Regions from separate parts of the Homo sapiens genome. Here regions 2 and 3 are each linked to region 1. Evidence: fine-mapped expression QTL. A gene starts in region 1. Each other region holds a variant in brackets. All regions are shown on one strand. Distances are from middle to middle. Region 1 holds the start of C9orf72 (C9orf72-SMCR8 complex subunit). Region 2 overlaps LOC124902107 (dapper homolog 3-like). Region 3 has its middle 26 kb from the start of C9orf72.

What was found. PIP is the estimated chance that this variant, and not a neighbour inherited with it, causes the effect.
Region 2: its variant is fine-mapped to the expression of C9orf72 in monocytes after Pam3CSK4 (Quach 2016, PIP 0.95).
Region 3: its variant is fine-mapped to the expression of C9orf72 in whole blood (TOPMed, PIP above 0.99).

Annotation. Positions count from the first base shown.
Region 1 is chr9:27,569,243-27,577,506 of GRCh38, forward strand. C9orf72 (C9orf72-SMCR8 complex subunit) reads right to left here and starts at 4,239. Exons shown (of 11, transcript NM_018325.5): 1 at 4,189-4,239. RefSeq lists enhancers at 3,633-3,722, 4,321-4,848 and a silencer at 4,233-4,312.
Region 2 is chr9:27,530,623-27,537,985 of GRCh38, forward strand. LOC124902107 (dapper homolog 3-like) reads left to right here. Exons shown (of 2, transcript XM_047424279.1): 2 at 1-78. Among named protein-coding and RNA genes, the nearest start is that of MOB3B, 4.5 kb to the left of the region's middle. RefSeq lists a silencer at 5,169-5,463. The variant T/C (reference allele first, on the strand shown) is at 2,832.
Region 3 is chr9:27,595,325-27,603,588 of GRCh38, forward strand. No RefSeq gene overlaps it. Among named protein-coding and RNA genes, the nearest start is that of C9orf72, 26 kb to the left of the region's middle. The variant G/C (reference allele first, on the strand shown) is at 3,313.

The sequences.
Region 1 (8,264 bases):
TTTATTGAAGAAAAACTGTTAAGATAAATTTGGTGTAGCTTCAGCGTACTGTGTTTATAGTCTACAGTGGTGTACAGTGTTCTAGGCCTTCACATTAATTCACCACTCACTCACTGACTCACCCAGAGCAACTTCTAGTCCTGCAAGCTCCATTCGTGGTAAGTGGCCTACACAGGTATACCATTATCTTTTATACCATACTTTTACTGTACCTTTTCTCTGTTTGCATATATTTAGATAAATATTTACCACTGTGTTACAACTGTCTATAGTATTCAGTACAGTAACAGTTGTACAGGTTTGTGGCCTAGGAGCAACAGACTATACCATACGGCCTAGGTACATAAAGGCTATACTATCTAGGTTTGTGTAAGTACACTCTATGATGTTTGCATAATGACAAAATCGCCTAATGATGCATTCCTAAGCAATGTGTGATTGTACTATAATTGAAGACTTGTTATCTAAGACTGAAAGTAAAAAGAATTGCAATTTCACCTAAGCAAGTCTAAAACTGTGAAGTCTATTTATAATAATAGCAATACAAAGCAGCTAATAGGCAAACTATGATATACCTATCTTTGCCATATGATTGCTTTGGGAGCTAACATTTGATCTGTAAATGTATGACAAAGTAAACAATTTTACTTAAAGAATTTCATCCACATCTTGTCAAGAGAGTTCAGTCTGATGGAAAGCACTGACTTCTATTTACAGAGCATTAGATGAGTGCTTTTATCATATTATGAGTAGGCATACAGAGCCTGGCAAAACAGTTAACTCTAAGTATGTACAGAAATGGTTGAACACAACGACAGTTTTAACACGTGTATTTGTAATTTCAAAAATTCATTTAGGTAATATTTACTTTTAAATATGTTGTATCAATTTAATAGTCTTAAGAGACAGCACTAGATATAAGCCGTACAGCTTCTTTAAAATATCCACTGTTTTTAATACAATGTAAGCAGTCAGTTTACAATGATCAAATATAGGAATGTAATCTGAATTGAAATGGTAATGACACTACTGCTGTCATAACTAACAACAGCAAACTGGAGGCCAACATAATGAATTAAGTTAACATACAACCATAAAATTATATTGCAAACATATTTTTCTTTCATTCTTTTAGGTTAAAAAGGTGGATAATCATAAAGGCAATATTACAACTCTAATATTTCATCATTAAACTGAAAATAAAAGTATTTCCTAAAACAGAACTGAACCCTGGAGCAAAATCTGATTGAATTATAGGGAAACTTTTACCACGTTGTGAAAATTGAACTATTATACTGCTAGTTACACTCTCACTCCTAACAGAATAAGAAAAAAAAAATGGGCCGGGCATGGTGGGTCACACCTGTTATCCCAGCTCTTTGGTAGGCCGAGGCAGGTGGATCACCTGAGGTCAGGAGCTCAAGACCAGCCTGGCCAACATGGTGAAACCCCACCTCTACTAAAAATACAAAAAATTAGCCGGGTGTGGTGGTGGACACCTGTAATCCCAGCTACTCGGGAGGCTGAGGCAGGAGAATCTCTTGAACCCGGAGGTGGCAGAGGTTGCAATGAGCTGAGATGGCGCCACTGCACTCCAGCCTGGGCGACAGAGAGAGACTCTGCCTCAAGAAAAAAACAAACAAACAAACAAACAAAAAGAATAAGAAAGAAAATGAAGGACAAAGATCATACTGAATTGCTTAGTTTTAAATCCTACCAAAAGAAATAGCCTGGGAAATGAAATGTCACAGAGAAGTATAATCAGGAGAGCTGTACAATTATTTTACTAATACTTGAAGTCATCGTCTTTGGTGAGAAAAATCCATACATGCAAATGCAGCTGAAAAAAATCAGCTCAAAACCAATAGTTGTTTATGTACCTATCTTACGTACATGTAGTGCTGTCTACTCCAGAGAGTTACCAAACATTAGCCAGTCTTTTGAGGGAAGCCAAGATTCAAATTGAGTGAGACGGTGGCTTGCTCACAGGGTTCATGAGAGGTTTCCCAATACACTTTCTGGAAATAATCCCATACATGCAGACATGATTACATTAATTAACATCTGCTAAAACTGTTAGTAGAGTGCTAAGTTTGAGGTTTTGCTTTTTCTTTAAACGTCTGTTAAAAAATCAACCATCTCTTCCCTGATTGGTATTTAGAAAGGTGGTTGGTCCACTGCTATTGTAGTGAAAATTCTACAATCATAAAGCCCTCACTTCTTGTTTTTTAGAGACAGGGTCTCGTTTTGTCATCCAGGCTGGAATGCACTGGCAGGATCATAGCTCTCGGTAACTTCAAACTCTTGGGCTCAAATGACCCTCCTGCCTCAGCCTCCCAAGTAGCTAGGACTACAGGTGCACATCACCACGCCCGGCTAAGTTTTTAATTTTTTGTAGAGACAGGGTCTACGTTGCCCAGGTTGAGCTTGAACTCCTGGCTTCAAGTGATCCTCTTGCCTCCGCCTCCCAAAGCTCTGGCATTACAGGTGTAAGCCACCTTCTCCAACCTGGCTCTCAATACTTGTAACCATGCTGTTTATTTTCTCCCAGCCCAAAGAGAAGCAGGATCCTAAACCGTCCACTTTCCACAACAGGAGCTGCCCAGGACCACTTCAAGGACAGTGAACTGTTTACAGTACCAGAAAGTTCACAACACTTTCTCAATCTTCAACATCAGGGAAGACTGGAAGGTGAAGTTCATATCACTATCTGGCCATTTCTCACAGTTCCAAGTTTCTCAGACAATAGGTAGGCTAACCTAGTCCTCCTGGGAACTATCTAATTAACGTAGAATAGAACCCGAGGGCAGACTTGAAAAACAGAAGTCCTCCTTGGTTTACTTTGTTTCTCTGAAAGCAAATTGTGGAGTGCCAACATAGCCAAACAAAATATTTTATCAACTTCATAAGGTGCTTGTAATTTTTTCCTGGAGCAGGTAAATGCTGGCTTAGTGAACAATCTGGAATGTGGTAATTACTCTCGTTCTTGTTTCAGATGTACTATCAGCATGTAGCAGTTTCCAACTGATTCAGGGTTTTCCTAAAGTGGCAGGCCTTGGCAGAGGTGGTGACAACAATGCCCGTGTCAAATGACACCGTATTTCAAGTATTCTGACTCCAGGTTATTAATATCCCCTATATGATAGTCTTGTTTCTGTGATATTCACAGATTATGTTAAAAGTTTCCCAAAGTCTGAGAAAAATCATATCTTAACAGTATCTTTTTTTTTTTTGATCCTTTGTACAAAAGTAGAAGTAATGCCAGACAGATTACGTACCCTTGTTGTGAACAACTGGTGCATGGCAACTGTTTGAATAGAAATTTACCAACTGCCACAACCAGGCAACTACTCTCCCAGAGCCTAACAATCTCGATTGCATCTGAAAGGGCCACCCCTCCTGGGAAAGTGCAGGACCTCCCTCCTGTTTCTGAATACAAAGCCTGGTGGTGTTCAACGCGGCCAGATAGACCCAATGAGCACACGGACATGTAATCTGTGCACTTCTTTAGACAACTGATTACCATCAGTCAAGTGATGCCCAAGTCACAATAGTCACTTCCTTTAAGCAAGTCTGTGTCATCTCGGAGCTGTGAAGCAACCAGGTCATGTCCCACAGAATGGGGAGCACACCGACTTGCATTGCTGCCCTCATATGCAAGTCATCACCACTCTCTAGAAGCTTGGGCTGAAATTGTGCAGGCGTCTCCACACCCCCATCTCATCCCGCATGATCTCCTCGCCGGCAGGGACCGTCTCGGGTTCCTAGCGAACCCCGACTTGGTCCGCAGAAGCCGCGCGCCGCCCACCCTCCGGCCTTCCCCCAGGCGAGGCCTCTCAGTACCCGAGGCTCCCTTTTCTCGAGCCCGCAGCGGCAGCGCTCCCAGCGGGTCCCCGGGAAGGAGACAGCTCGGGTACTGAGGGCGGGAAAGCAAGGAAGAGGCCAGATCCCCATCCCTTGTCCCTGCGCCGCCGCCGCCGCCGCCGCCGCCGGGAAGCCCGGGGCCCGGATGCAGGCAATTCCACCAGTCGCTAGAGGCGAAAGCCCGACACCCAGCTTCGGTCAGAGAAATGAGAGGGAAAGTAAAAATGCGTCGAGCTCTGAGGAGAGCCCCCGCTTCTACCCGCGCCTCTTCCCGGCAGCCGAACCCCAAACAGCCACCCGCCAGGATGCCGCCTCCTCACTCACCCACTCGCCACCGCCTGCGCCTCCGCCGCCGCGGGCGCAGGCACCGCAACCGCAGCCCCGCCCCGGGCCCGCCCCCGGGCCCGCCCCGACCACGCCCCGGCCCCGGCCCCGGCCCCTAGCGCGCGACTCCTGAGTTCCAGAGCTTGCTACAGGCTGCGGTTGTTTCCCTCCTTGTTTTCTTCTGGTTAATCTTTATCAGGTCTTTTCTTGTTCACCCTCAGCGAGTACTGTGAGAGCAAGTAGTGGGGAGAGAGGGTGGGAAAAACAAAAACACACACCTCCTAAACCCACACCTGCTCTTGCTAGACCCCGCCCCCAAAAGAGAAGCAACCGGGCAGCAGGGACGGCTGACACACCAAGCGTCATCTTTTACGTGGGCGGAACTTGTCGCTGTTTGACGCACCTCTCTTTCCTAGCGGGACACCGTAGGTTACGTCTGTCTGTTTTCTATGTGCGATGACGTTTTCTCACGAGGCTAGCGAAATGGGGCGGGGCAACTTGTCCTGTTCTTTTATCTTAAGACCCGCTCTGGAGGAGCGTTGGCGCAATAGCGTGTGCGAACCTTAATAGGGGAGGCTGCTGGATCTGGAGAAAGTGAAGACGATTTCGTGGTTTTGAATGGTTTTGTTTGTGCTTGGTAGGCAGTGGGCGCTCAACACATAATTGGTGGATGAAATTTTGTTTTTACCGTAAGACACTGTTAAGTGCATTCAAAACTCCACTGCAAACCCTGGTAGGGGACAGCTCCGGCACTGCGGGCGGGAATCCCACGGTCCCCTGCAAAGTCATCGCAATTTTGCCTTTACATGTAAGAATTCTCTCAAGCATGATTTTCACACTGGGGAATGTCATTTTTGCTAGTTGCAATATGTGGATGAGTTGTTTTTTTTTAACTTTTGAAAAACGTACCATTCTGTTTGATGTGTAAAAAACACAAAGATTTTTGAAACCTTGCGTCTTTTGGTCTGCAGGTGTATAGATTCCACTTACTACAGATGAGTAGCATTTACACCACTCAGATGTGTAAAAAAACAAAGGTTTTTTAAACTGTGTGCCTTTTGATCTGCAAGTGTGAGATGGCACTTACTACAGTGAGTAGCATTTAATCTTTTTCATCACTAAAAATCACACAGAACGTTTTAATCATTCACCGAGGAAGAAAGGGAGGAATAAATACACAAAATGGCTCTCAACGTCTACACCTTCTGCAGAAACAGACCCTTTTCCTACTGTTCTATGCTTTGTGAAAGTTGATCATACAAATTGGGTCATTCTTTTTATACCCAACTAAAATAGTGGGGGTAGGGGGTAGAAAAGCACTTAGGACAAATGACACTGCTCCCACAGTGTAATTCTCTCCAAGTCCAGCTGCTGCAACTGCCCGTTGTGACCTGAGACCAGTTTTATCTAATAGTTGCTAAAATGACCTGCTGCAGCTCTAATTTTATCTACCACCATCACTCACCAGTTGAAACTCACCAGCTCCTCAGATCCTTAATAGTGCCAATGAATTTTCTCAAAGAGCACTATGTAACATTTCTCTTTTTTAACAAAACCTCCCCCTTTTCTTTGTTGTGTGGATATACCGAAGACCATCTGATCTACATGTATGCCCTAATTGCAATTCTTTCTTCCCAAATAAATCACTTAATTTAGAGATTCATCTCTGTATTTTTATTTTGACTGACAGCTTATAACAAGTAGCTAGCATTTACCAAGTTTCTACACTGAGTTGTACTTCACTTATACGTGGAATTAAAAAACAACTGAATTTATAGAAACAGAGTAGACCCTTGGTTGGGGGGCTTGGGGGGAAAGAAAATTGTAGGGTAGGGTACAAAGTTGCAGTTACGTCTAATACATCTAGAGATTTAATGTACAACATGAGGACTAGCGTTAATAATTGTGTTAGTCCATTCTTACACTGCTATAAAGAAATAACTGAAACTGGGTAATTTATAAAGAAAAGTTTAATGGCTCACAGTTCTGCAGGCTGTACAAGAAGCATGGCTGGATCAGCTTCTGGGCAGGCCATAGGGAACTTAAAATCATGATGGAAGGCATAGGGAGACCCCAGACTTCACATGGCAGGAACTGGGGGAAGAGAGAAATGGGAGGTGCTACATACGTTTAAACAACTAGATCTTGTCAGAACTCACTATATAGTACCAAGAGGGGACTGTACAAAACCATTAGAAGCCACCCCATAATCCACTCACCTCCCACCAGGCCCAACCTCCAACACTGGGGATTACAGTTGAACATGAGATTTGGGTGGGGACAGAGATCCAAACCATGTTATTCCAACTCTGGCCCCTCCCAAATCTAATGTCCTTCTCATATTGCAAAATACTGTCGTGCCTTACCAACAGTTCCCCAAAGTCTTAACTCGATCCAGCATTCATTCAAAAGTCCAAAGTCCCAAGTCTCACCTGAGACGAAGCTAGTCCCTTCTACCTATGAACCTGTAAAATCAAAAACAAGGTAATTGCTTCAAAGATACAATGGGGGTATAGGCATTGGGCAGATACTGCCATTCCGAAAGGGAGAAATCTGCCAAAAGAAAGAGGCTATAGGGCCCCATTGCAAGTCTGAAAGCCAGCCGGGCAGTCATTAAATGTTAAAGCTCTGAAATAATCTCCTTTGACTCACACCCAGGGAACACTGATGCAATGAGTGGGCTCCCAAAACCTTGGGCAGAACCACCCCTGTGGTTTTCCAGGGTTCATCTCCCACAGCTGCTCTCATGGGCTAGCATTGAGTGCTTGCAGCTTTTCCAGGCTGCAGGGTGCAAGTTGTTGGTGGATCTACCATTCTGGGGTCTGGAGGACGGTGGCTGTCTTGTCATAGCTCTGCTAGGCAGTGCCCCAGGGGACTCTCTGTGGGGGCTGCAACCCCACATTTCTTCTCCTTGCTTCCCTAGTAGATGTTCTCCATGAGGATTCCACCCCAGTAACAGGCTTCTGTCTGGACATCCAGGCTTTTTCATACATCCTCTAAAATCTAGGCAGAGCTTCTTAAGCCTCAACTCTTGCATTATGTGCGCCCGCCGGCTTCACAGCTTATGGAAGCCACCAAGGCTTATGCCTGGCACCCTGTGAAGCAGCAGCCTGAACTGTATTCTTACTGGTGAAAGTTATCTGAGTTACCAGCTGCAAATCCATGTGGGTCTGCAGCAACCTCAATTCTTGCCTCCTCAGAAGAAAGAATTTGACCAAGAGGCATAAGGCAGAAAAAGAGACTGCGACAAGTTTCAGAGCAGGAGTAAAAGTTTATTAAAAAGCTTTAGAACAGGAATGAAAGGAAAGTACATTTGGAAGAGGCCCAAGTGGGCACCTTGGAGGTCAAGTGCCCTGTTTGACCTTGAACCTAGGATCTTATACACTGGCCTACTTCTGACATCTTGTGCCCCTTTCCCTTGGTCCTTCCCTAAGGGTGAGCTTGCCGCATGCATGGTGCCCTGCTTGCACTTGGAAGGTGAGCGTGTGCAGTGTGTTTACTGGAGTTGTATACATGCTTACCTGAGGCTTTCTTCCCTTTTCCGGTGGAATGCCCCCAAAGGTCATACTTCACCATTTTGCCTCTTAATGTGCATGTTAAGCCCACTCTCTCAGTTCCTGAGATCTTATTGGAAGCGCCCAGTTACCAATTTCAGGTGTTTCTATCTATTGAGAAGTTGCCTCTCCCTGGTGCTGGCTGCAACCAATTACTATTTTAGAGAGGCAGTATGACAACTGCCTGACCATCATCTGATGGTTGCCTGACATTCCTGGTGGGTGGTGGGGACTTCTCTCTTACCCCACTCATGCCTGATTAGCTACCTACTGTAACAGTACCTGGGCCCCTTTGAGCAGCTGGGATTCAGGGAGCAGAGTCCCAAGGCTGTAAGAGGGAGCAGGGGCCCTAGGCCTGGCCCAGGAAATGATTCAGTCCTCCTAGGCCTCGGGGCCTGTGATGAGAGGGACCACCATGAAAGCCTAAAATGCCTATTAGGAACACTTTTACACTGTTGGTGGGACTGTAAACTAGTTCAACCATTGTGGAAGTCAGTGTGGCGATTCCTCAGGGATCTAGAA
Region 2 (7,363 bases), 39 kb before region 1:
ATCACTTACATCTTTTGCAATATCATCTCAGATATTGTAAGAAACATTTAATAAATAGTCATGACTTAATGATATCAACCCTGGATTAAATGACTCTAATTCTGTGTCACTTTTGTGTAATGTAAAGATACCGATTGTGAATATAAGACTCAAATATGGGAAAACTGCCAGATACAAAAATACAGCCGCTAAGCAATATTTCTGTTCATCACCGAGGAATCTCATTTCCAAAGTGCCCCAGTTTTTAAGAGGAAGAACACCAGAGTCAGACAGACCCATAGCAGCTGAGTCTAACCTTTCTGAAGCTCTGTTACCTCATCTTATAAAATGAGGATAATATAGGTAGCTGTCATTCAATGAAGGAATGCATACAACATGCTTAGCATAACACCTGTCACATGGTAAGTGCTCCAGGGTCACCACCTATCATTGTTTCCAGCATACAGTTATCACCCCACCGACATGTAGCCCCTCCCTCATGAGCTCAAGAGCCCCCAGCACGTGTTCTACTCACACACGCACAAGCTTCAGTGTCCCTTAAGATGTTATCTCCTGGAAAGTAGGAACAGAAAGAGAATATTTTCAGGTAGTTTGGAACAGAATGAATAACATTCACATTCCTTGCCCAAGTCAGTACAGATTAATTTCCATCATTTCCAACTCATACTTTATACATTTCCCATAAGAGGAAAATCATGCTGGTTTTCAGTAGCATATGAAAAAAAAAAAATTCCAAGAGGATTCTTTTGCCAAGCCACTTCATTACAGCTTCCCCTTAGAGGATACCAAAGAAGCACAGGGATATTGGAAAGGTGTCACCATAGCAACATTGTAATAGACAGATGACAATAGAGTAAAAGCGAAGAAAGCACATTTGCATAGTCATTGACAAACTTGGACCTACAGTCATATTGCTCTGGGCAGCAGTGCTCAGAGTCCAAGGGCTACTCAAAGTAAATTTGGTAAGAGGCTATTTCTATTCATTTTGGCTGAGTCTGACTACCCAGTTCATTGTGCTCATGTGTGTGCTAATTGTAATTGTTACAGGCAGTTCACTAACAAACAGCAGACATCCTCAAGAGTCCCTTTCATCCTAAGCAATGTGAGTTCACAAATCTAAATGTGTACCTAATAAATCTTCAATAGTAAAGCGTACTTCCTCCTTACCTGCTTCTGTTTTGTTTTCAAAACCTTAAATAGTCACAGGTATAGAGAAATTGTCTCAATGCTTATGGGAGCTTCTGTGATAACTTATGTTAATTAACTCTGGGTACTGAAAAGAAACAAACGTGCATGGCTTCCCCTAAGCACTGAGGTAATGGCAATTCAAATAACAGCAAATTTATATATGTGATATACACAGATTTATATATATATAAATATATCACATATAGATATATAAGAAGACATCATATATATATACACACACATTTTAGAGATCATATATATCTTTTAAGCAATTTCAAACCATACAAGAATCCATATATGATCTTAAGGCATAATTTCTGCCAGCATACTTCTCAACATTTATAATGACACTAAATGTCTATAGTCGTTTCCTCTGAAATGCACATTACATCAATCCCTTTTTGTGAAAGTGGAACTAAGGCATAAAAAGGTCAGAGTTCAGGAGCTGGGAAGAACATATGACAGTGTTCAAAGTTGTTTCAGTGACAGCTGAACAAGATAGTGTCATGTGGAATCATAATGGACAATTATCTGCTTTCTGGTCTATAGGAATAGAGTGAGTGTTCTTTCCCAAGTTTAAAAAAAAATTATTGAAAAGAGACTGTACTCTTTCTTCCTGCTCTTAGAATCTGTTTTGTTTATAGTGACCCAATGCTCCTTCATATCTATCAGATGGTATTTTTTTCTTATTTAAAAATACCCATGTGGTTGAGGCTGCAGTGAGCTATGATTGCACCACTGCACTCTAACCTGGGCAATGAGACCCTGTCTCAAAAAAAAAAAAAAAAAATAGTTTGTATCCTTAATAAGCGACCCTTCTTCTCAAGAGATGAGCCTGATGTTTCTGTCTGGCTTAACATTAGCCAGGTGTGGTACACTTGTGATCTGCCTCAGTATTCTGAGTAATGGAGAGGAGTTCTCTCACTGTGAAACAGGTCAACTTAGATACGATCCAAAAAGGGTTAGTTGCCAGGAGAACCAAAGTCTAAGGTAGTCATATCTACAAGCCCATAGCCTGGACCCCCAAATTAATCCTACAGTGAGACTTTAGCACCTTTCACAAGTGGAGAAATCAGACCACTGTGTGCTCAATGGGTTTGGAATGTTGTGCTTTCAAAGTAATTAATACAGAAAGGCATAGAAAGATAGAGAAGAGACTAGTGACTCATGGATGCTTCCAACGTGATATAACGCCCCTTTCTCTTCTAAATAGTAAAATAATGAAGATCTCAAAGAGACTTTCTCTCTTTGAGAAACACAGCTTTACTGCTTTTGTGATCAATGCCCACTGCCCTCACCAACAAATCAGTCATTAATTCCCAACTGCCTTGCATTGCAAATATAGAAAAAAAGGTTTTTGGATCTCCTTAGCTCTCTTTGAATGTCTATAGGAAAGAAATGAAGGAAGTAAACTTTTCTACTGCCAGACTGAAGGTAGATTTTGATAAACTTGGAACCTCTCCAAATCACCCTCTACCCTCCTGGCATAGAAAATAAACAAGATTTTTCCCTTTACATCATAATTAAGGAAAGAGACAAAAATGAAGGTATCATCCAACCTGATCTTCTTTAGCCTCTAGCTGTTCTAACGACACAGAACTATTTTCTCAAGATTCCAATTAGGTTTGCTATACTGCTCAATA[T/C]TAATTTCCTCTTAAGAAGCTACTTCACCATTTGGAAAGCCCCTTGGGTTGAATAATTATTGAATTTCTAAATGGCCTCTGGCTAGCCTCAATTGCATGAGTGTTTCATGTACAGTAAGTAATATGAAAGAGGCTTGCCTTGGGTATTGAACAGCCTCTAATGATGCTTTTCAGAGGGAAAAAATCCCTCTGAAAAGATTTTTGGAAAAGTTTCAGTTAAATTTTTCCCAAGTCTTCTTGTCTACTGCTCAGCAGAGTCTCTGTAGAAATGAATAGATAACTTCCTTCCTTCATTTTTCCCTTCCTTTTTTCTTTCTTTTATCCTGCCCTCTTCCGTCTTTGTTTCTTTCTCTTCTCTTCTCTGTTAGAGGATTTATGATAGCTAGGTAACTCATTAAGGTTTCTATCCAGTGTCCCAGAAGAATAATTCTTCTTTTTAATAAAATGAATTACATTTTCATTCCCTTTCCTTGTCTTTTTGTTTTCCTGTGTTCTTTTTGGTTTCTTTCAGCAGATGATAAACGATGTTTTCCTTTGAAATTGCTTCTCACTCCTGCTCAGACGGTCAGCATGAGAAGTCAAAAGGAAAGCATACACACTAGTAAGAGAATCAGGGCGTGGAAAAGGGTCTCTAAGACCCCAACCCCCAAGAAGGAGATGGAGACCCAAACATGCCAGTCATCAGTTTGAGGCTCATAGCTTGTTAGTTTAGAGCCAGATTTTGTACTTGTAGTTTGAGGAGCACAGCTTGTTAGAATCCAGATCTCATGGCTTTTAATCCAGAAATATTTCTTTGTTTGGGAGTTGTTTTTCATTGTTGCTGTTGGCCAGTAATTACGGTACTCTTGTGAAAAGGCTGTTTTATAGGTCAGTTATTTGGAAAGGCCGTTTTCCGTTTGTTTGGTACTGAATAAATGTGCTTGCCTTGTTCATTTGGCAATGTCCTGAGCTCCTCAATCTCTCAGTCCCTTCTTTTAGAAACAATGGTTTGCCTACAGGATGCCAGGTGCTTTTCTCAGGGCCCTGCTCCTGTTATATTTGATTTCTCTGTCAACCTTTTTACACTACTACATACGCCCAGAGTGACAGAAAAAAGGGAGAAGAGAAAGAAAGCAAAAGGAAACGAGAAAAGGAAGTTGAAAGCAAAAGAGGAAAGAAGGAAGGAAGGGAGGGTGGGAGGAAGGAAGGGAGGAAGGGAGGGAGAGATGTTGAAGATCACCAGTGACTTATACAGGAAAATTAATGATCAGATATCCTTTGTTAAATTTTAATACTGGCAGTCATGTCTGTTATTAGGGAATCCAAAAGTGATGAAAAGCAATCTCCCTTCCTTCTCCTCTGCTCTCCCCACTCCTACCCTACTACGCCCCAGGTTATACTTCACTGCATCTACTTGGATGATGACATAGGAGTCTGGCATTATGTTTCCTTAAAATTTGTCTGCCTTTTGTGGGGTTTGGTTGCCAACCACCCCTCTTATCCTACCTGCAATTTCCTCATTCCTTGTTTTATTTTTAGAAGAACACACCTACCCAGACACTCATTCTTTTTTACAAGTAGTCTAGTTGAAATGTGTTGACCTTGACCCCTATCGGCAGAACTGCTCAGCTGACCCATTGACTCTTGAGAAATAATAAGTAGTTGTAGTTTTAAGGTGCTACATTTTGGAGTGATTTGTTATGCAGTTTTATTGTGGCAATAAATAACTGATACAGATAATGTGGTGATCTTGATGAATACAAGAGTGCCTGGCCCGTAAGTAGACACTCAATAAATGTTGGACTGGAATGAACTGGCAAATAGAGTAAATTAATATTCATCAATAGGGGCTTAATTAAATATGTTGTGACATAGCCTAACAATGGAACACAATGCAGGTATTAAAAACAATGAATAAAAATTCAATGAGTTGATGGCTTAGGATTTGTATATTTGTCTGTGTATTATATTACATATCAGTAAAGAAAGCCTGTATACAAAGCAGCATGATAGCCTTTTAATATTAAAAAATCTACAATGTATATATTCATAGGAAAGTATCTGGAAGTACATATACCAAGATGTTGACAATGGTTCTCTAGGTAGAATCATAACAGGTTAATTTAAAATTTTTTCTATACTTCTTTATTTTATTTGAAGACGTTCAACTTTATTTTTTATAATAACAAAAGAGTAAGGTGATAAGATACTCTTTTCCTGAGTCCAGGACACATGGGGTGAGCTACCCTGATATGACATTTTCTCTTTCTCTCCCCAAAGCACAATGAAGATCTTGAAGGGCACACAGAGAGAGGGAAGGCAACAGAGGCAGGCTTTGTTGGACACCAAATGAATGTACTGAGCCATTGTTCCAAGACAGCTCTGTATTTTAAAGCTCAGCATGGGCCAAATTCAACCTCTGGATGAAATATGTGATTCTTGTGGCATTGTCAGAAGTGGCAAATGGATTCTCTCCTCCTAAATGTGGTGTGACTCTCCCATCAACCACAGGTAGCAAGTAACGGCACACTTGCCACGACCTCTACTGTCTGCTTTCTGTATCACTGCCTCAATCATGCCCCTCCTCTTGCCTTGTCTTGGTGAAGAGTGCCTGGCCAGCAGCCCTGCCTACCTCTCTCTTCTGGCCCTAGCGCCTTGCTCCAGCCCATGTGGTTCCAGCAAGCTCCACTTCAAGGGGCCCACCCTCCAGGGCATGTTCCAAGCATCACCAACCAGAGGGCTTCTTCTCTGAGAATTTATACATGGACCTTGAGGTCAGCAAGCAAGGATGATATAAGCCAGAGTTCTCTGCAGCCATCCCCTTTTCACCTCTCTCAGTTACGGATGAACTTATCTGTAAAATGGGAAAAAGAAACGACAAGAGAAGCACAGCTGAGAGAAACACCAAAAGAAAGAGTTGAAGACATTGTTTGAATTCCTGCATCCAGTAGTGCCCAAAGCCAGTGCCAACCCTGGAATTCCTAGCTACAAGAGCCAATGAAGTCCCTTTTGCTTTAGTTTGAGGTGGGCTCCTGTCACTTGCCACAGAAACTAGGAGAAAGCACAGTGTCTGTGCTGCAGTGAGAGAGGGCTAAAGTCCTCAGGGACAACCAATAAAGCACGAGAGCCAATGAATAAATACTTGAGGTGAGCAATTACAGGAGGCATTCTTTACATTTCTTAGAGAGCCAAGCAAAATTTAGCCCCAGTTGCCTGAAGTGGCCATATATATTATTATTAATAATGAATATAGTCAATAACCTGTAGGCAGCTCAGAAAAAATCTCAGTCATTAAGTGTTAAAGTACATTTGAGACCATTTGCCTCAGCATCTAGTGCAGCTCCGGATACACACAACGTGGAGGGCAGGGAACTAACATTTGGTGAGCACCTACTATGGGTTAGGACCTGTGCTGGACATTTTCACATACATTAGTTCATCTATTCCTCCCGAAGATCTTGGATGGTGGGTATTATTACCTTCATTTTGGAGATTAGGAAACTTGCCTAAGGTTCATACAGAGCTTCTTCGGTGCTCTCAATCATGACTGTTCCCTTGCATCCATCCCCTCTGTAAGAACTGAGATTAGCGTTTAGGGAGTTATAGCTGGTGCAGTAGACACCTCAGATGCCCTGTGTCACATCTCTTGACACATCTCTGATTTCAGTGCACTTATGATGTGGCCTCTTTCCCAGATCTCAAGCACGCAGCAGTCATTATTTCACTATCTGCCCCGGGACGGTTTCCACAGATGCAGGAGCTTGCTCAGCCTAGGAGAAAGCACAGTGTCTGTGCTGCAGCGAGGGAGGGCTAAAGTTCTCATGGACAACCAATGGAGCATGAGAGCCAATGAATAAATACTTGAGGTGAGCAATTACGGGAGGCATTCTTTACATTTCTTAGAGAGCCAAGCAAAATTTAGCCCCAGTTGCATGAAACGGCCAATTGCCAAATTCATCCTTATATTGACTTTTCCTCCTTCGTGTTGCAGGCTGACTGATCTCTCATTCCCACTTCCTGGAATCACCTCCCAAACAAACTAACTGCATACTAGTCCTTGTCTCAGGCTCTGATAGTGTGGGATTCCAAACTGGAAATGAAGACCATCTTGTGTACTGACTAGTGAAGGAAAACGTTATTGTTGTGAAGTCTGTAATAAAATAAGCTCAGCTTAAACCAGCAAGAGCAATTCCAAGCTAGGAACTATATTAAGAAATAGTCTCTTACATAGAACCCCCTTTGAGAAAATATACTCAAAGTCTATAACTTAAACATGCCTGGAAGGAAATACATCAAAATATTATTTATTATAATTCAATATATCATATTATTATATTAATTATTCTTCTCTTCTGAGTAAATTTTCAATGGACATTCCCCAGATGTTCCTCACTTCTCTTATCTATCAGTCTTGATCTGCCCCCTGGGGAATCACAATTCTTGTCACTGCAGTTAATAACCTTTTTTTTTTTTTTCTGTGACTCAAATTAGGTAGAAGATACTTAGCCATCATTCTCCACTTGGAAGGCAGCACAGCATGTTAGTTCAGAGTA
Region 3 (8,264 bases), 26 kb after region 1:
CCAAAACAAAAAGAACAACAACAAAAATGCCTCTTCTACTATAATGTAAAATCTATGAAGGGAAGAATTTAAAAAACTTAAAATATTTAACATTATACAAGTCATATGTGTTATATATATTTAAATAGTCATATTCAACTTAGTATGTTTATTCATTATTGCCTGCTTCATCCCTATTGAATGTAGTCTTGACAGGAATTTCTATCCTTTTTGTCTGTGTAGTTCATCAACGTATCCTCAGTGCCCATATGCGGAGTGAACAATTCAGAGTAATCAAGGACAACTCCAGCATTCCTAGTCTGAAAACTGGAAGGTTGAATTCGCTGTTCATAGGCGACAGGAGGAGTGAAGAGAGAAAGAGGGAGGAGTGAAGAGAGAAAGGGAGAGGAGCGAAGAGAGAGAGAGGAGAGAAGAGCTGCAGCCCTTTGGCAGCCCAGACCTGGGAGCTCCCGAAGCTAGGGCTGTGATTTGCCTTTTGGAGCCCTGAGGTTCCTGGAGTCTCCAAGTTTCCAGGCACCAATGCGTTCCGTTGCTGCGCTGCTTGGTGCAGCCACAGCCTTGCAGTGAGCCAGCACCCGTGCCAGCACCTGAAGCTGCCCATCCCGCTGTAGCAGCCATTGAGCCTGACTGTGTGCCAGACCCCACGCTCACTTCCTCACACATCCCTCACCGCTTCGCTCCAGTCTCTTTGGAGGCATGGGATCCACGCCAGTAGTGTCAGCTGAGCGCAGCCTGCCAGGATGAGTGGGCCCAGTGGACCCGAGCAAAACTCATGCAAAGGTGCCACCGCCACAGAGGTTTCTGGACAGAAAAGCAACACCCCCAAGGATCCCATAACAGTATCAGTATTTTTCAGTCAGGAGGAAATTGCCTACTTCTTGTTGAGCAGTGTTGCTAAGGGTGTATTTAGGAGTTGTATCAGTTTCTAGGGCTGCTGTAATAAATTTACTACGAACTGTGGCTTCAAATAACAGCAATGTATCCTTTCACAGTTTTGCGGGCCAGAGCCCAAAAGCAAGGTGTTAGTAGGGCTGTGCTCCTTTAAAGGCTTTAGGGAAGAGTCCTTCCTTGCCTCTTCCAGCTTCTGGTGGCTGCTGGAAGTCCTTGGTTTCCTTGATTGGTGGCCACATCACTCCAATCTCTGCTGCTCCAAATCTCACATCACCTTCTCCTCTTCTGTTATGAGGATACTTGTCATTAAATGTAGGGCCCACCTATGTAATCCAGGATGATCTAATTTCAATATCTTTGACTTAATTACATGTGCAAAAACCCCTTTTCACAGCTTCCAGGGATTTGGACATGAACATTTTTAAGTGGGGGGCCATTATTTGACCCACTACAAGAGTTCAAAGCCTTCTCGGGAAATACCATCCCTTACCCACTGACATGAGTCTGTTCATGCTGGGAGTGGTAGAAGATACCAGGACCTGAATGCCTTTGTTCCCATCTTTAACAGACACCACCCAAATTCAGTAATGGAGCAAGTGAATTTAGCACGAGTACATTTAATCTTCACACATATGTTGCTGGGTGCTAGAATTTAAAACATTGTTTTCAGCGCCCCCATTCTGACTGGTTCCCAGGGATGTAAGTCTCCTCAACACCCTGGCCAAAGCCTTACCTATTCTCTGAACCCCGCTCTGTTTTGTGCTATGGGTGGGAGGAGGGCATTACTTATTGACCTCCCTGTCCTCAATAACCTGGGTAACCGGAGACAGAGGAATCGAGCACCTCTATCCCTAAACCATCATGTTGGAAATTCCTTACTGAAGCAAGTCATTCACAGTTGTGTCTTCCAAACAGTGCAATTTCATTTGTGTGTTAGGACAGCAACTCTACTAGAAACTACTTCACATCAATAGAAACATCATTACAAAACAAGATCAATATTTCTGATTTTCATGCTTAGTGTTATTTTTTGAGAATGACCAGAAATTTTCATTTATATAGAGATATACTCTATTCTGATAATCAGAAAGAACAGATAATGACTTTGGAGAACATCAAGATTAAGGTTCCTAAGGTAAACATTTACTCCCTGGTCAATATAATATTAAAACCACTAGTACGTTTTACCTGAAAGAAAAATGAATCCATTTTTTTGGTCAACGAGTAATATAGGAAGTCCTATATCTGTTGCATTTATTTTTAAACTTCTTTTTAAGTATAAGAATACAGTACATATATGGAAAAGTATGCAGTTCATAGGTGCACAGCCTAGTCAATTATCACAAAGTAAACACATCTGTTTAATCACCATCCAGGTCAAGGAAAATACCATTGCCCACCTCACTGTCTTCAGGAAAGACCCCTGAGCCCCTTCTCTATCACTACCTTGTCCTTCTCACCAAAAGTAGCCGCTATCTTGATTGCTAAAAGGATTAATTTTGCCTGCTTTAGAATTTTATACTACATATATTCTTTAAGCTTTTAAAAGTCAAAATATCTGGAAACCACTCCTTTCATGATATTTCATCTCAGAGGTAGAATAATTATTTCTTTGTAGGTAACTCTCTGTCGGAAAGATGAATAGCTTACTCCATAAATCATTAGCATAAAAACTTATTTATAATTTACATGAGAAGTCAGTATGAAGAGTAACATTATGACCTTGTGGTCAACACAATCACACAAATGGAATTATTAAAAATAAAGATAAATGAACCATGGAATTTTCAATTCGTAATTTACCTGGTTCTCTCTGTTCCTGTCCTTCTCTCTTGATAGTAAGGTGACTTTAGCCTTTGGGACACAGTAACATTCTCTTGATTATTAAAAGTTTTTTTCTCTCTACCTGCTTGGTCTCTTGTTCATATGCAATTTTTCTCAACAAAAAGTGTTATTGTTTAGTAGTTAAAAAAAGAAATGACTTCAAAGTCAACAATATGTAGAAAGGCTTATATTTGGTGGCATATTTCAAAAATTATGAGTGACCTCAATTCTTATTAACACATGTAAGCATTATATTTACTCAATTCCAAGGAGAAATCAGGCGTAAGATGCAATGACAAAAGAAAAGGAAAGGCTGCATTGTATATAAAATCAGGTGTAGGTACAATCGAGTTTCACAAATGTTGAAATGTGAAGGGAAAAGTGCATCTTAGGATTTAGGAATAGTGCCATTTGCTGATGATATCAGCAGCGATATGGTCCAGAGGTGGCTTGATGTTATTATAATTTCCTCTAAAAATACAAAAAATAAAAATAAAAAGTTCAGGAAGTCATTTAGAAATTTACATTGATGTCCCTCAGCTGTCCCTAGAAGTAGGAACGAGTTACCCTTTAGACATAATGGGGACATTTGTGCGT[G/C]CTGTCATTTTAGGAGTTCTACAAAGCCCCACTTTCCCTCAAATGTTTATTGTCTACCATTCCTTTCTACTATCTTAAAAATCCCATCAAAACAAAACAAATAAAAGATAACTATGTGAGATGATGAATATGTTAATTTGCTTCACTACAGTTACCTTTTCACTATCTATATCCATCTTATAACATCACGTTGTATACCTTAAAAATACGCAGTAAAATTTATTTTTTAAAAAAGAATCCCATCTTTTTTTTTTTTTTTTTTTTTTTTTTTTGGATGGGGTCTCACTTTGTCACCCAGGCTGGAGTGCAGTGGAGCGATCTCCGCTCACTGCAAACTCCACCTCCTGGGTTCAAGCGAAGAATCCCATCTTTTGAATTAGTCCTTTGAACACTATTTGTACAAGATGTCTGGAAAAGGCAACTGGCTCCTGAATTTCTCCTCTAGCTTTCTCTTACTTCATTTGCATGGCTTAATTGTATATGTTAGCTAATTGTCATTATTAAAAGCACAGATCCTGACCTTAAGGGAATGAAGTGCTGGACAGATACCTCTTAATTTCCGCAACTGCAATCTCAGTTTACTGAGAATGGAAAACTCCCTCCAAGGCCTGAGAATTCTTGGTTAACACGGAGGGCATTTCCCAAGAGTGTAGAAGAGGAAGCCCAACAGGCTGAGTAAGCTATTTCTTCACCTTGTATATTTAAGTTAGAGTACTACCTCTTTTGTGTGAACTTTAGGGAGTGGTCAGTAAATGCCACTTATTTCAAATTGTTTCACTTTGGCTTGCTGGAAAGTAGATGTATTTTAGAGCAAGGTCATTTGGTATATTTGTAAAAATATACCAGACTTTCTTGATTATTTTCTTTAAATTAAGCTTACTTTTTGAAATATTATTTATTTTAAAGTAAGATTTTATATAAGTTCTCTAAATAGAATACCACTATCACTTCCCATAAATAGAAGATAAACCCATTTCCCGTTTTGGGAAATCGCTTAGAAGAATGAATTTGGAATTTGGAATCAGAAGACCGGAGTAGTCATCTCAGCTCTGCTACTTCTGTGTTTTCTGGTTCTGGGAAAATCACTTGACTTCTCTGAGTCCCAGTCTCTTCATAAAAAAAAAAAAAAAAAAAAAAAAGGGACGGGATAACAATGTCTTCTTTCTTTCTCAAAATGACATTAACTAAATCAAGCTGCAAAGGGAAATATGTGGTTCTTTTTATTTGTAAGCTTAAAGTCCAAGCAGTTATGACAAATGGGTTTCACCTGAAGTGCAAATGCCCATTTATTCCTAGTGGTTCCTGGACCCCTTTATTGAGAAGGGTTGTGATGACCTGCCCCAAGCAAGGGGGGAAGAAGGCTGCTACTGCATAGTTCACGCTACTTAACTCCTGCCTCCTCTTTACCGAGCCCTCTTAGCTCACCAGAATCTGCATCTCAGAAGCCACCTCCCATTCAGCATGAACTTCCTTTTTATAAGAGCCCCCAAAAGTCACCTCAGGTAAATCACACTCATGAAATCTCTTTTCAGCCTAAAACTGTCTCCTAAAATGAAGCCCTCCCAGGCCCTTCTAATTCTGTCACCACTTTCTCACTCCTCCAAAATAAACTGCTTTTCAGTCCAAGGAATTCTTTAGAGAGAGAAGAAGAAACAAGGATCTGCCCGTGTAATTCTGTTGTTCTATCACTTTCTTTGCTTCATTATGTGTCACAGAGGTTTAGCAAGTACTCTCCAGAGGAGGCTGGGGTGGAGGAAAAATGTGTGAGGCCTGTGGCCTAGTTACTGTTGAAGTCTTCCTAGCAGCTTGCTTAATGCTAATTTCCTAGGCTTTGCAAATAGATCCTGCAGTGGAAACTGCTACCAATAGTGACGTAGTTGAAAAACCATGGGCCATAAAAAACTATTTATGACACTTCCCCCTTTTTCCAGCTCACACTCTGGAATGAACCAGTAAACAAATAATTAACACACAAGCAAAATTATTCTTCTAGGGCTTAAGGCTCTGTCCTAGTAGGAAAAGAATACTGTAGAAGGAAACTTGACAGAGAATACTTCGGAGAACTTAAGTGATGTTTTGATGCCCACAGATTCTGAAAGCTGACATCAACATTTCTAATATTTGTCCATTACTGTTTAATATGATAGGTTAAGTGTTGCTTCAGGGAGCTTGGAATTGTTCACTTCCAAGAAGTGAGGAGGATGCTTATTATTGCTCTTATGACTTCTCTTTAGAATTTGCATTGCTTTTACCATCCACAAACTGCTCCTTGGTAATTTTTATTACTAACAAACCCATAACCTGATTGGTTTCTCTTGAAATAGAGGGTATTGTGAAGTCACTCAGGATACAGATATAGTGCTGATGGGATCAATTAAAATGAATTGTAGTCCAGGAAAAGGTGCTTTGTGAAGCACTACGAGTGACAAAGATGAGTTTAGAAATAATCACTTACTTTATGACCACATTTCATAGTCTTGCTCACCCAGATATTTGTGACAATCATATTCTGGACCTACATAAAGGGTGAGCTACAGGAAGACAAACTTGCAAACATTACGATTTGAAAATAATTGATGTTTACTAACAAGCACATCATCATTTCAAAGCACTTTCAAGAAAAAGCATCCTCTTTCCTAGACAACTAAAGAGGGCTGTTAATTCAGATGGAATCATCTGAAAGCTTTTTCTTATCACCAACTTACTTATTTTCTTTTAATCCCCTCCCCAATATAAATCATAGCACCTCTGGGTGATAGTATTTGAAAATGACAAAAAGAACCCAGATGTTGACTAAAGGCCAAGGTTAATTGGATATGTGTGAGACTGTGCTGTAACTTCTTATTGAATTGGGTGGCTGAGCTGTATAGTTCTTGTGGCATTATTTCAGGATCTGAATTTAGTGATTACATAAGAAACTTCTAATGCGCTAAAGCGTTTAATAACCCATGTCTAAACTTCCCTTCCATAACTTCAGTTTTCGTCCAGAATCTCCGTTACTCAGATCTTTTCAACGGCTTCTTTTCTGGCTGCTGAGGAACCCAGAAACTTCTGACTGGCTTTGAAGGGTTACTTCCCTTGCATTTTTTCTCTCCTTTCTTATCCTTCTTTCTCAGGCTGCTCGCTGTAATATCCCTCAAACTGGATCTTCTCCTCCCTCTGTTCCTTCTCCCCTCACCTTCATTTTATCAACCAATTCCCTATGTTTGACTTTTCTTTTTCTCTCTCTGCCTCTCCAAGTCATCAAGACCCATTCAAGGTCCATTTCTTCCAGGGATCCGGATTAGTCCATTCTCTACCAAGCTTTCCTTCCTCTAAAATACCATTTTTAAAGCCATGTTATCCAGTAGAAATAAAATGCAAACCACACAAGTAAGTTTGTTATACTGTAGAAACAGATCAAATGAATTTTGACAATATAGTTTATTTAATCTATCATTTCTACCTGTAATAAACTTAAGATTATTAATGAGATATTTCCATTTTTTTTGAAGTCTTAGAAATCTGGATTATATTTTATACTTAAAGCACATGTCAGTTTGGACAAGCCACATTGCAAGTGTCCAGTGTGGCTAGAGCTTACTACATTGAACGGTCCGGGTTCAGAGCCTGTGCCACATTCTCTAGCTCTCAATCATGTACTTCCTTATTTCATAGCTTTCTACCAGACCAAATTGCAAACAACTCCGTAGAGTTGGCGGCTCCATTTTACACTTCCTCTGTCTTCACATTTTATTCCTGTGTGTGTAGTAAGCTATTAGTAATTGCCTATTGATGGATTGGTAATATTAATTTTATCTGTGACCTCTTAAACACAGCATACTTACTCCTACTACAGTTTCCTCAGGCTTGAAATTTCCCTCCTCTTCCCCATATTTATATTATGATTCAATAACCAAATCACCTCTGTTTTGTTAGATCTGAATCTCTGTGGGTATGTTGGATGAGATTATAAGAAATAGATGTGCATTATTTGCAGTTCTATTGCACTAGAGAGCAGCATTTTCACAGAATACTCATCGTTCAGACAATTCAGGCAAAATAGGATTTATAGCTGAAATCAATGGGATAATTGCCTCCATTGTTCTTTTTTGCTTTCCTAACAGAGACCTGGCCAACTCCTCGTAAGAGTCTCCTGGTCACAGAATCCAACCATGAAGCAGAGGCCCTTCAATTTGATTACAATGGCAAAGACACAGTTTTATAAGCTGAAACTAAATCACTGGGATAGGAATAGCTTATAAAATTGCAGGGAAGGAAGGTCGTGAAGAAGAAAAGGAAACCCTGGAGAGTACAAGGACAGATAGGGGACCTGAAGTAGAGGACAAGATGAGGAGATTACTAAATTCTGTCAGGGGTGCTAAAATGGGGGGAGCGTGCGAAACATACTATAACTGGGAACCTCAGTTTTAAAAATATAGTTTAACCACCCACTTTCCTTTCATCTCTTCATTCCTTTCCTTTCCAGACACTCCCCTCTGGCAATGCCTGCTTATTTAATTATGTTCTTGCTTGAGAAATTCCAGAGGCCAATCTTGAAACAAACCATGCATGGAGCCCTGAGTGCAGAATCCTCCTGCTTAGCGAGGAGTCACTGACAGTCCACCACCACTGGGCTGAATTCAAAATAATACCAACTAGACCTCCAGATGGGTGACTATCTGAGATAGCCATTGGAACAAGACACACAGACCCCGCCCCCTGCACCCCTCCTGCATGCCTCCCATACCAAGTTTTCCTTTGAACACTCTATGGTAAATTTTAAAATTTAAGATGGTTCTGTGACTATTGTTCACCATCTTCTTGGTTTGCTGCTTCTCCGATTAAAATCGCTTTTCCTCCCACCAACCTTCCTCTCTTATGTCTAGCTTTAGAGCAGCAAGCAGCTGAACCTGGGTTCAGTTACAATACAAACCTTACCTATTCCACAGTTTTATAAACAAAATGCTGAG